Homo sapiens: one gene and its partner. The protein of the gene in region 2 interacts with the protein of the main gene of each other region in a pairwise test. Each region holds a gene or a part of one and is shown on either strand. Other genes may lie near its edges.

Evidence for each region. Proteins that work in one complex are often made in the same cells at the same time.
Region 1: the proteins of RBPMS2 (region 2) and RBM42 interact in binary tests that used the Homo sapiens proteins (3 or more experiments, as listed by UniProt).

Annotation. Positions count from the first base shown.
Region 1 is NC_000019.10:35,624,733-35,632,054, reverse strand, and holds the start of RBM42 (RNA-binding protein 42), read right to left. Parts: upstream 3,020-7,322; 5' UTR 2,902-3,019; coding exon 2,774-2,901; intron 2,536-2,773; coding exon 2,382-2,535; intron 916-2,381; coding exon 831-915; intron 725-830; coding exon 650-724; intron 1-649. UniProt on the Homo sapiens protein: Binds (via the RRM domain) to the 3'-untranslated region (UTR) of CDKN1A mRNA.
Region 2 is NC_000015.10:64,739,370-64,744,594, forward strand, and holds the end of RBPMS2 (RNA-binding protein with multiple splicing 2), read right to left. Parts: intron 1,874-5,225; coding exon 1,811-1,873; 3' UTR 1,804-1,810; intron 1,632-1,803; 3' UTR 522-1,631; downstream 1-521.

The sequences.
Region 1 (7,322 bases), on a different chromosome or scaffold from region 2:
ATAAGGAAGTAATGTCCTACAAATTGACAGTGTGAGTAAAGGTTACCTGAAGAACAAAAGGTGGAATGTAGAAAATGGCCTGGGGGGGAAGGATGGCTGGAAGATTACAGCTGGGTGACAGTGAGCAGGGAGAGAAGGGACCTTAACAAAAGCACTGCTGGCACATCCCAGAAATGTTCGGGCTGCTGGGGATCTCTCCCTGCAAGAAGCAAGGTCATGTAGGGTTGTGACTGCCAGGGGAAAAGCCTGGCGCTTGTCTCAACAGTCCGTTCATCCCATCAACAGACAGTACATAATGCTTCCTATGTGGCAGATACTGAGACTTCTGCCCCTCATGGAGCTTTTATTTTAGAGGATGCAAAAGATGATAGCCATAGTAAATAAGAAATTATATAGCTTGTTATGAGGTGTTAAGTGCTGTGGTAACTGGGAATTAGGACTGACAGCAGGAGGGTTGGTTTGCAATGATCAGGTTAAAACAAAATTGACATCATCAGAAAGGACATGATCAGGTTCGTGCTTTAGGATGACAACATCAAGTTGGGATCAAAGGCAAAGGGTAATTTAGAGCAAGGATTTAGGCAAGAGGCTGAAGTCATGTAAACAAGAGTGCCTGATTAAATGTGGGGGTCCCTGGCCCCAGACTCACCTGCCCGCCGCAGGAACATGGCTTCTCGAGCCTCTGGGCTGTCCAGGTGACTCCGATCACCAGGGCCAAAGCCAACTGTTGGGAGGGGAGAGGCAAGGATGGTGGGAGGAGAGTCCTGTGCACACCTTTTTACCACCCTGCCTGATTGCCCAACCCCCTCACCTTGCTACTCTTTACTTACCAGGGCCTACAAAAGGAGGGCCACCCACCATGGGAGGAACTACTGTGGCTGCAGCAGCTGCTCGGGCCTCCAGAGTCTGCTGGACCTGTCGAGGAAGAGGTCAGGGTGAGGGGCCTGACTCAGCATTCCCATCTGCTGCGGCCAGCTCACCCCAAGAGACCAAGAGCTTCATGCTTTGTGCTCTGTATGTGGCTGGCTATCTCAGGTCTTAGCTAAAATGCCACTTCTCGGGGAGGCTTTTTGGATCACACTAGGGCTCTCTGAGCAGCAACTTCTCTCACCACCTTATTTCATCTTCCCCACAGCACTTAGCACCCACTGAAACTGTGTCCAACCTGTCCTCCCCATCTCCCATGCACAACCTCCATCCAAGCCACCATTAACTCCTGTCTAGATTACTGTACTAGCCCCTTCCTCCATCTCCTGGCTTCTGCCCTTGTCCCTTACAGTCTTTTTTTTGAGACGGAGTCTCGCTCTATTGTCCAGGCTGGAGTGCAGTGGCACGAGCTTGGCTCACTGCAACCTCCGCCTCCTGGGTTCAAGTGATATTCCTGCCTCAGCCTCCGGAGTAGCTGGGATTATAGGCGCCCGCCGACACGCCCGCCTAATTTTTGTATTTTTAATAGAGACGGGGTTGCACCATGTTGGCCAGGTTGGTCTTGAACTCCTGACCTTGTGATCTACCCGCCTTGGCTTCCCAAAGTGCTGGGATTACAGGCGTGAGCAACCGTGCCTGGCCACCAGGGTTCTTAAAATGGCCATAAGGCTCTACAAGATTTGGCCTCACCTCTCTGTCCTTATCTCCTCCCACTTTCCTCTTTGCTCACTCCACTGTCACTGGTCTCCTTGCTGTTCCTTGAACACAACAACACAACAGGTATGCACCTGCCTCAGGGCTTTTTTTTTTTTTTTGAGACGGAGTCTCGCTCTGTCACCAGGCTCCAGTGCAGTGGCGCAATCTCAGCTCACTGCAACCTCCGCTTCCTGGGTTCAAGCGATTCTCCTGCCTCAGCCTCCCAAGTAGCTGGGACTACAGGCACGTGCCACCACACCCAGCTAATTTTTGTAATTTTAGTAGAGATGGGGTTTCACCATGTTGGCCAGGATGGACTCGATCTCTTGACCTCGTGATCTGCCCGCCTTGGTCTCCCAAAGTGCTGGGATTACAGGTGTGAGCCACCACGCCCAGCGCCCAGCCTATTTTCATCTTAATAATTTCTCTCTCTTTCTCTACTAGTCATATATAGTTGGCTACTGAGCACTTGAAATGTGACTAATGAGAATAACGAACTATTAAATATAAATTTTAAATATATCAGAACAGTCTCGTCATTGCAGAAAGCTCTACTGGACAACATGTTCTAGAATATAAGCTCCCACAGGGCAGAAATGTCTCTCTCAGTCATTACTGTGTTCTCAGTGCCTGGCATATAAAATATTTGTCATGCTAATTAGTCAACAAGCCAAAACGTCAACAGCTCTCTGTACACAAACACCTACTCTGTTCGAGGCATTGTGTTCCCTGACTTACATGCCTTAGCTCAGCCGTACCTGCTGGTATGTGTTGGTCGCGATAATTGGGCGGATCACAGGAGCCGCTGGGACCTGCATCGCTTCTACTGTGGGGACCGTGGGGACAGTGGGCACCGCAGGCACAGCAGTTGGGATTCCAGGTACTGGAGCCCCCAGAACTTCCTGCTCAAACCTGGAGGAGTAGAACAGACATCAGCGCTCAGGACCTCGTACCAATTTTGGAACTGTGGGTATATCGCGAGGGGACCCTCACCCCTGCCAACCTCTCCCCTATCCCCGCCCCCACAATCCCGAAGGTCCCACTTCCCCATGTTAGAGCCGTATCTCCGGCCTATCGAGGCCTGGAGGCTCCGAGATTCGGTGGCTCTGGCTCTGGGACGACTTTTATCACTCTCTGTCGCGGGCCTTACAGGGCCATCTCCGCCTCCATTTCCTTCAAGCGTTCCTCGCCGCTTTTGCCCGGGATGCCAGCGCCAGGACCCGGGACCACGGGTCCTCCTGCACCCGGGAGTCCCGGGGCTGGCCCCGCCCCAGCCATCGCTGCCGTCGTCGCTGTCGCCGCTACTACAGTCTCTGCTTAGCCGCCGCCGCTGGTTCTGCTGTCTACTCTCCCCCTTCGTCCGGGTGGGCTCCCGAGGATGACGTCCAGCAAAAGCGACGGGCGCTGGCGCATGACGTCATACATTCGGGCGCGAGAGCCAATGAGATTTGGCCACACCCTCAGGGGGAATATAGGCCAATCAGAGTGAGAGAAGGACACACGAACGCAAGAACCTGGGCCTATGAGAGCACAGCGGAGAGGCGGCCCCGCTTTCCTGGAGGACCACCGGCTAATGAGAGCGAAGCAAAGTCAGTTGGGCCCATCCCCAATGTGGAATCTGGACCTTTGAGATCGCAGGAAAGTTTGGAGGACCCTCCTGTGCCACCGCAGAGCCCGCGCCGGAAGTTTAAAAAGACGCTAAAGTCCGTGTCAACCCCAGGGTTGGGCAAGGCTGGGAGGCCTGGCTGGCCCCTCGGGGCCCCTATCCTGGAGTAGGTTGACACCCGACCTGTGGTTTCCAGGAAGACCGGAGACGCCCGGGAGGAAGCGCCTGACCCGGCTTCCTGGAGGAGGACAGCTGAAGACATTTAAAGATGAGAGCTGTTCAGGGTGGGAGCCAAGGCCCAGAGACTAGTGCAACTCAGAGGAGCACGTCCGTGGGCTTGGTCCCTGTCCTTTCTTGGGCCACAGCTGACCCTTTTTTTTTTCCCGTAGCCCTCACAAGTGTTTTATTCTGAGTATTTTCAAACATGCACATTAAGGGGAATAGTATAACGCACTCTTAAGTACATCTCAAACGCTACCAATATTCAACACTTCTGGATTTCACTTGATCTATACTTCTTTGTCACGCGCGTCCGTGTGAAGAGACCACCAAGCAGGCTTTGTGTGAGCAACAAGGCTGTTTATTTCACCTGGGTGCAGGCGGGCTGAGTCCGAAAAAGGAGTCAGCAAAGGGTGGTGGGATTATCATTAGTTCTTACAGGTTTGGGATAGGCTTATAAAGTACATTCTCAAGGGCGGGGAGAATGTTACAAAGTACCTTCTTCTTTTTTTTTTTTTTTTTTTTGAGACGGAGTCTCGCTCTGTCGCCCAGGCTGGATTGCAGTAGTGTGACCTCGGCTCACTGCAACCTCCACCTCCTGGACTCAAGGGATTCTCCTGCCTCAGCTTCCCTAGTAGCTGGGATTACAGGTGTGTACTACCACACCCGGCTAATTTTTGTATTTTTAGTAGAGGCGGGGTTTCACCATGTTGGCCAGGCTGGTAGCAAACTTCTGATCTCAAGTGATCCACTCGCCTCGGCCTCCCAGAGTGCTGGGATTACAGGCATGAGCCACTGCGCATGGCCTTATACTTTTCTTATTTTTATATTTTTTTGCTGGAGTATGTTAAAGCAAATTCCAGACATCAACTCAGTCATAAATGCGCCATTATGTCTCCTTAACAGATAAGAACTATTTTTTTTTTTTTGAGACGGAGTCTCGCTCTGTCGCCCAGGCTGGAGTGCAGTGGCGCGATCTCGGCCCGGCCGATAAGAACTATTTTTAAAAAATACCATTAACGCTGGGCTCAGTGGCTCACACCTGTAATCCCAGCACTCTGGGAGGTCGAGGTGGGCGGATCACCTGAGGTCAGGGGTTTGAAACCCGCCTGGCCAACATGGTGAAACCCTGTCTCTACTAAAAATACGAAAATTAGCCGGCCGTGGTGGCGTGCGCCTGTGGTTCCAGCTACTCGGGAGGCTGAGGCAGGAGAATTGTTTGAACCCGGGAGACAGAGGTTGCAGTGAGCCGAGATCGCGTCACTGCACTCCAGCCTGGGCGATAGAGTGAAACTCAGTGTCAAGAAAAAAAAAATACCATTAACTATGCCATTATGAATACCATCAAATTAATTTCTTAGTATCATCTAACACCCAGACCGTGTTCAGTTTTCCTTGTCTCAAAAATGTCTTTATACGATAGTAGAATCAGGATCAAAACAAGGTCCAAATATTGCATTTGATTGTCTTTTTTTTTTCCTGTCAAAACTTAAATTTTTGCTTGCTCAGATGTTTACCAACAAGAAAAACTTAGAGGCCAGGCGAGGTGGCTCACACCTGTAATCCCAGCACTTTGGGAGGCCAAGGCGGGTGAATCACGAGGTCAGGAGTTCAAGACCAGCCTGGCTAACGTGGTGAAACCCCGTCTCTACTAAAAATACAAACATTAGCTGGGCGTGGTGGCGAGCGCCTGTAATCCGAGCTACTTGGGAGGCTGAGGCAGGAGAATCGCTTGAACCCGGGAGGCGGAGGTTGCAGTGAGCCAAGATTGTGCCACTGCACTCCAGTGACAGTGCGAGACTCCGTGTCAAAAAAAAAAAAAAGAAAATTTAATTTTATTGGCTGCCTTGGTTTCTTGAAGCTGCAGTATGAATCAGTACAAATGAATACCTGCCTGCCTGCCATCTTTCTTTCTTTCCTTCCTTCCTCCCTTCTTCCCTCCCTCCCTTTCTTCTTTCTTTCTCCATTCCCCCTTTTGCCTTCTCTTTATTGAAGAAACTGGATCATTTATCCTATAGGGTGTCACACATTTTGAATTTAACTAATTACATCCTTTTTGTTTCACTTGTTTCTGACTGCCTTCTGCCCCTTTCCCATATGCTTGTAGTGAGAGCTAAGGCTAGATGAGATTTAGGTTTAATTTGGTAAAAGCACACTTCATAGATAATATTGTATGGTATCATATCCCTTGTATCCTATTGGATCCCATCAGAAGCACAAGATGTCTGGTTGCCTTCCTTTGGCATCAGGATTGATCAGTGGTGTCATCCTGGTCTACCTATTTTAAGAAGCCCAATCAACCTTTCCCCTAATAGTTTTAGTAGCCCTTGATCATCATTACCTGTATCCATCACTAGATTAATTAATAGCAAATAGTGGTTTTTGAATTCTAGTATTTTCTCTGAAGTTATTAGTTGTGATTCTTCCATAAATAACCTCTTCATCAGAAATTTGGTTACTTAGGCTGGGCACAGTGGCTCACACCTATAATCCCAGCACTTTGGGAGGCTGAGGCGGGCAGATTACCTGAAGTCAGAAGTTTGAGACCAGCCTGGCCAACATGGCAAAACCCCGCCTCTAATAAAAATACAAAAATTAGCCTGGCATGGTGGCGCGCACCTGTAATCCCAGCTACTCAGGAGGCTGAAGCACGAGAATCACTTGAACCCAGGAGGCGGAGGTTGCAGTGAGCCAAAATCTCACCATTGCACTCTAGCCTGGGTGACAGCACAAGACCCTGTCTCAAAAAAAAAAAAAAAAAAAAGTTGGTTACTTGTTCACATATAAGAAAAATAGAGAACATGCTGGATTATTTTATATATAAAAAATTTTTCAAAATAATGAGTGGGTTCCTAGTACTCTTCAAAGGTGATTTCAATGAGGTATATGAGTATCAACATGAACTTACACATTCAGGCATATTTGATGTGCTTCAAACCACTGTGGTTCTTTTTGCTGCTCAACATGTCCCACCTTTGGTGAGTGACAGCCCTTCAGACTGGCTCCTGAGTTCCTTTGACTTGGCCACAGTAGTCTTGGAGGACTCTTTGCTTCCTGGCACAAAATATCCTGGACACATTTTGCACATTTCTTGCCCCAGACCTGGAATCAGCTGTTTTCACAAAAGTCCCTAGTTCTTAGTCAGAAATGGCACTTATAGAGACCACAGTCTGTATACTAGTGCTGCTCAGTGTTACTGGGGTGTCATTATATTTAGACCTTTTCAGGGGACTTAACTAGGGAAATACATATTTTTTAGAAAGAGAAAAATCATGACTTTATTCTGATATTTCCAATTCATGTGAAAGACTACAGGGTGTTTACTTGAGTTTATATTTGTTATCTTTTTTCATTTACACTAAAAATCTTGGTCCCCAATGACATTACATCACTACTTATTTGCTTTAGTATATAATTCAAAAAATATAAGGTAGAATCTCAAAAATTTAAACGGTCTATTTTATCAAAATAAAAATGCCAGTGTTATTACTAACAATGTGACTACTGTATGAAGTTGAAGATTTTGTTGAGTTCAGTTGAAGGTGGGGGCTGGGAACTGTGATGAGGAGAGAGAGGAGGAGCAGACACACTAAGGACTACATGGGAAAGCCAATGTGGAAAGGCTGGGAAACAGCAGCCAGGGGCAGGAGGAAAGCTGGGAGAGTAAAGGGACTCTGGAGGCCAAGAGAGGAGTTGTGTGAGAGATGGACAGCAAGGTTCAAGATCATAAAGCTGCCAAACTTCCAAATTTGAAAACTTACTGCAACACCAGTAAAACTACCATCTGTGCATGTTTTTCTTCTGGGGCCAGCCAAATTAAATCTAATGTTCACTTAGTTTGGGAAAAAAAATTTACTGAGACAGGGGAAACTAA
Region 2 (5,225 bases):
GATGAGGTTAACCCCTTCTGGGCAAGATTCCAGGTCCTAGCCTTCCCTCCAGCACAGCCTCACAAGAGGCACGCCAAGGACAGACACCACCTGGCAGAGCCCAACAGCCCAAACCTCAGTCCTCTTTTACCAGAGCGAGACTCAAAAAGACCACAGGCCGTAAATGGTTAAGCCGAGTATATCACCGCCTTCCCCCAGGAAGGTCCCACCTGGGGGCCTGCTCTTGGTGTAGGGAGTCTCTCCCTACCCTGACAGCCTGGAAACTGAGGAAGTAAAGCCACAACTGCCAGGCCCTTAGGCAAGTCACTTACCCTGGACTTTGTTTCCCCAGCTTACAAACCAGGGAGGCAGGAGAGGCTAAGTGAGCTCCAAGGTCCTCCCCCACCACCTTTACAGTCACAAGCCAGCTGCCAGCGGGCCAGGCCCACTTCACTTCCTTCCCCCGACTCCACATCTCTCTGGCTCTGCCTTCCCAATGGCAGTCTGCGTCCACGGAAGGGGGAAGCAAAGGCCGAGAGCAGTCATTTTGGTTTTGTTTTATTTTGCATTTCATATATTATCCAGTTTCACATTCTCACAGGATCAGCAATGACAACAGCCGCCTCATCTCCCAAGTCTGAAATGGCCAGACGGTCACAGCTGCGGCTGACAGTAAAGCACTGATATGCTCAAAACAAAAAACATTGCACAGTGTTTCCTTCATTTCATTTTCTTAAACAAATGCCAGACACAAAGGCGTACTGCTGAAGAATGGAAACCCTTTTCTTCTTCATGCCTCAAACTAAACATTAAACTTATCTGACAGGGCGAACGAGGTCGCTTTAATAATTAATGGTACGCACATGAAAAATCCTTTATGATGCATAAATATTTTGTTACACAGGGTACAAAAATACTTCTCACGTTTTGGTTGGTTTCGAGGTTTGGAAAGAATGAGGAGCAGCGGCGGGCGGGGTGCGCTGTGGAGAGGTGAACAGAACGGGCAGAGAGGGCTTTCTTACGACTGTTGGCCCATCCGAGAAGGCAGGAGCGGAGGAGCCCCATGTGAAATGAAAAAGCAAACCCCATCTATCTGTTGGGTGGAGGTGGGAGCTGAGCCTGGAAGCGTGTGGGGCCACGGAACTTGGGCCTCCCTGAAGCGGGGTGGGTGCAGGGGCGGGGCGAGGAGAGAGGGGCAGGCAGGATGAACCACTGGGAGCCAGGACCTGTCGCTATGGTGACAGTGTGAGAACAAACTGTACACTCATATATACAAGTATAAGTGTCTTAATTCATGCCAGAAAACATGCAAAATTAAACACCTCACTTCCTCGAGGGGGAGCTACAGAAGCAAGTTTGGGCGGGAGGTCAGGCCTTGCCAGGTCCCAGTGAGGCCTCCGAGCTGGATCTGGGCGCCCCAGGGAGAAAGTCCCCAAATCCTCCTGGGAGGCATTGGAGAAAGGCTTGAGGGTGCAGAACAAGGTGAGGAAGAGGAGGGAGGGGAACAGGAAGCAGTCCACTGAGTCAGGCTTGGGATTCACAGTCTCTGGAGGGCAGCAGCTCTGTGCAGGCCGCCCGGGGGCAGTGGGAACTCGGGGCGCCTGTCCCGGCACCACCACAGATTACCAGAACCACCTCCCCGGTGACCAGACCTGGAGGGAGGGAGAGAGGCGGCCGTGAGCAGAGGCGTGGGACTAGAGCTAAAGCCAGGCCTGCTCTGGGCTCGGCTAAGCTCTTGAGACCCGGGGCAGAGGGAGGAACTACGGCCCTTCAGGGAGCCGGAGTCTAGGACACTTGTCCTGGGCCTCTGGGGCCAACACTTACTGAAAAACTAACAGAACTGACGGTACTTCCATCCTTGCTGGGTGGTGTCAGAGGAAGGGTACCAGCGCACCTGCAAGAGAAGCCAACGTCAGGAGCCAGCTGTGCATCCCTTCCCTCAACAGGAAGCCAGGTAACCATGGCCATCGGTGTCCCCGCTGGAGTCCTGGTTCTGTCACTGATTGGCTGGCACATTTTGGGCCAGTTACTCACCTTTAAGCATCAGTTTCTCTATCCGGCAAGTGGGAGTGCACTGCCTGATGTGCCTCCTCTGCAGGACACAGGTTCCAGCGAAGGAAAGTCACGCAGGCGTCTCATACCCCAATCAGCCCAATCCAAATGGGCCACTATACTGGTGGGAGCCCTGGCAGCTGGGGGCAGTGGTGCCAGCAACCCGCCCTTCCCCTTTACTGACACAGCACGGAATTCCTAATTCTGTGGAGGAGGAGGAAAAGAATGAGCCTCATACATTTTTGTTTGACTTCTTTGGGTCTCAGTGTTCTCATCTAGCTATAGGACAGAAATGACGAAGTCATATGTGGTTGTGAGGATCAGGTAAGACAGGATGTAAAGATACAGTAAGGCCGGGTGCAGTGGCACACACCTGTAATCCCAACACTTTGGGAAGCTGAGGTGGGAGGATCACATGGGCTCAGGAGTTCAAGACCAGCCTGGGCAACATAGGGAGATAATGTCTCTATTAAAACCAAACAAGGCCGGGCGCAGCGGCTCACGCCTGTAATCCCAGCACTTTCGGAGGCCGAGGTGGGCGGACCACCTGAGGTTCAGAGTTCGAGACCAGCCTGACCAATATGGAGAAACCCCATCTCTACTAAAAATACAAATTAGCCGGGCGTAGTGGTGCATGCCTGTAATCCCAGCTACTCGGGAGGCTGAGGCAAGGAGAATCGCTCGAACCCGGGAGGCGGAGGTTGCAGTGAGTTGAGATCGCGCCATTGCACTCCCGCCTGGGCAACAAGAACAAAACTCCGTCTCCAACAAAAACAAAAACAAAAAACAAAACAAAACCCAAAGTCCGTGTAGACCCCAAGGGGTAGGACTCTCCAACATCAGTCCTGATTCTTCTGAGAAGCCATGGATGAGACCCAGCTGAGGCTCCCGTTTTGACCTTCCCACCCCTGCTGTGCCATGCCCTCCATCACAAGCCTCTAAGTCCAGAGGTCTATAACGTCAGGTGGGCGGCAGCTATCTGAGATCATCCTCACCAGTGCCTGGAAGTTGCCTAAACCCTGGCACTTGCCAGAAGGCCCCACAGAGCAGTAGCCCCAAAGCTGGGTTCCCAGAGACTGGTCAAGAAAATGGCACGTTCCCTCCTCCCTGTGGGCCAGTCATCTGGAAGGCAAGTATGCTGACTGCCAAGACCGCAGGGAAGGCCGCCTGCCCCAGTTATGCACGGTGAAGCATGTCTGTCCCAGCCTGACCCAGGACAGGGAAAGGGGTGTGGCGGGGGGAGCGGGACAACACAGGACCTTGAGTTGCGGTTGGGGGATGAGCATCCAGGGAGGGGAGCTGGAGTCCCCTCAGGAAGGGAAGGGGCAGCACATGAGCGTGTGGCAGGAAAGGAGTAGAAGCTGGGCCTGCAGACAGCTCCCTTGAGGTTGGAGCAGGCAGACCCAGTTACCCACTTGGCTGCTGGGAACTCCTGCTTCCTGGGTAAGCCATGCCAGGCCGTCTGGGGGCTGATGGAAGCTTCCTAAGAACCCGTTCCTATCCCCGCCAAATTCTAGGTGCTGTTTTGTACACTGCAGAATTCCAGCCACCACATCCCAGGAGCTCAGCGGGAAGTTAGAAACCTGGCTGGACACTAGCACTTATTCCACAAGAGAGGGACACACGAGGAAACGAGCAATGCTGCTATCAGAGAAGCCGGCGGCTGGCACCAGCTCAGGGAGCCCCTTAGTGGGCCCTGACCACTGCCCTTCATGTAGCCTCCGGCAGCCCCACAGCAAGGAAATCCCGGACGGGCTGGGTGTCCCGCAGGGCCGGACAAGGGGAGAACATGGACGACAGAATGGAAGGAGCTCAGGAGGCCTGCAACCCAACCTCTTTCACCACTGGGAAGCTAAGGCCTTGAATGACTGCCTAAGGCCGCCCTCAGCATATCTGCTGGATCCTGCCCTACACTCTCGCTACAAGGTGCTGGGATTCCTGCTTCCCAAGCAGCGACTTTCCCTCCAGCCTGAGGGACTCCTTGGGGAGAAAGTGGAGGAAAGCTCCCATATTTGGGCTTGGGACAGCTGTGCCACTGAAGCAGACGGAATGCATTTAGAAGGGCTGCTTTTCCGCTTCCTCCGGGTGCCTGGCATAGGCCAGTGGCCTGGGTCCTCTAGAAGCCACACAATCCCTTCCTAGAGCTCTTCTTTCTGCTCCAGCTACAGGAGACCCCCAGGGGGCCAGGCCAGCAAGACAGGGCACCCGCAGTGTCCTTTCAGGGCCTCCAGTTGTGCCCAGGGGGGGGGGGGCTCCTGAGAGTACCCCCCACAGGCTATAGTGACCAGGTTCCGAGAGGGCTGCTTCAAAACAAAGAGCGGAGGATGCAAACTCAGCCGTCTCTCAGATCCTGGGACTGACCAGTTGAGAAGATACACCAGAAAGCAAGCAACGGGATGAACCTACATAAGAATAAATATAAGGCCAGGTGTGACAGCTCACGCCTGTAATCCCAGCACTCTAGGAGGCAGAGGTGGGCGGATCTCTTGAGCCCAGAAGTTTGAGACCAGCATGGCCACCATTACGAAACCCCGTCTCTGCAAAAAAATACAAAAATTAGCTGGGCGTGGTAGCACACACCTGTAATCCCAGCAATTTGGGAGGCTGAGGCAGGAGGATCGTGCTTGAGCCCAGGAGGCAGAGGTTGCAAAGAGCAAAGGTCATGCCACTGCACTCTAGCCTGGGCAACGGAGTGAGACTCTGTCTCAAAAAAATAAAAATAACTAAAAAAAGAGAAAGGAAAAAAAAAAGATATAAACAACCAAAGATATGGAAGCCTCACTTATCCGAAATTAAAACATTTAACCCAGACTGGTAAGTCTACACTTTCACCGTGTCATAGTTCTAGGAATTTATCATAAAGAAAACAAAACAATGGCTGGGCGCGGTGGCTCATGCCTGTAATCCCAGCACTTTGGGAGGCCGAGGCGGACGGATCACCTGAGGTCGAGAGTTCGAGACCAGCCTGACCAACACGGAGAAACCCCATCTCTACTAAAAATACAAAATCAGCTGGGCGTGGTGGTACATGCCTGTAATCCCAGCTACTAGGGAGGCTGAGGCAGAAGAATCACTTGAACCTGGGAGGCGGAGGTTGAGGTGAGCTAAGATCACACCATTGCACTCCAGCCTGGGCAACAAGAGTGAAACTCTGTCTCAAAAAAAAAAAAAAAGAAAGAAAGAAAACAAAACAG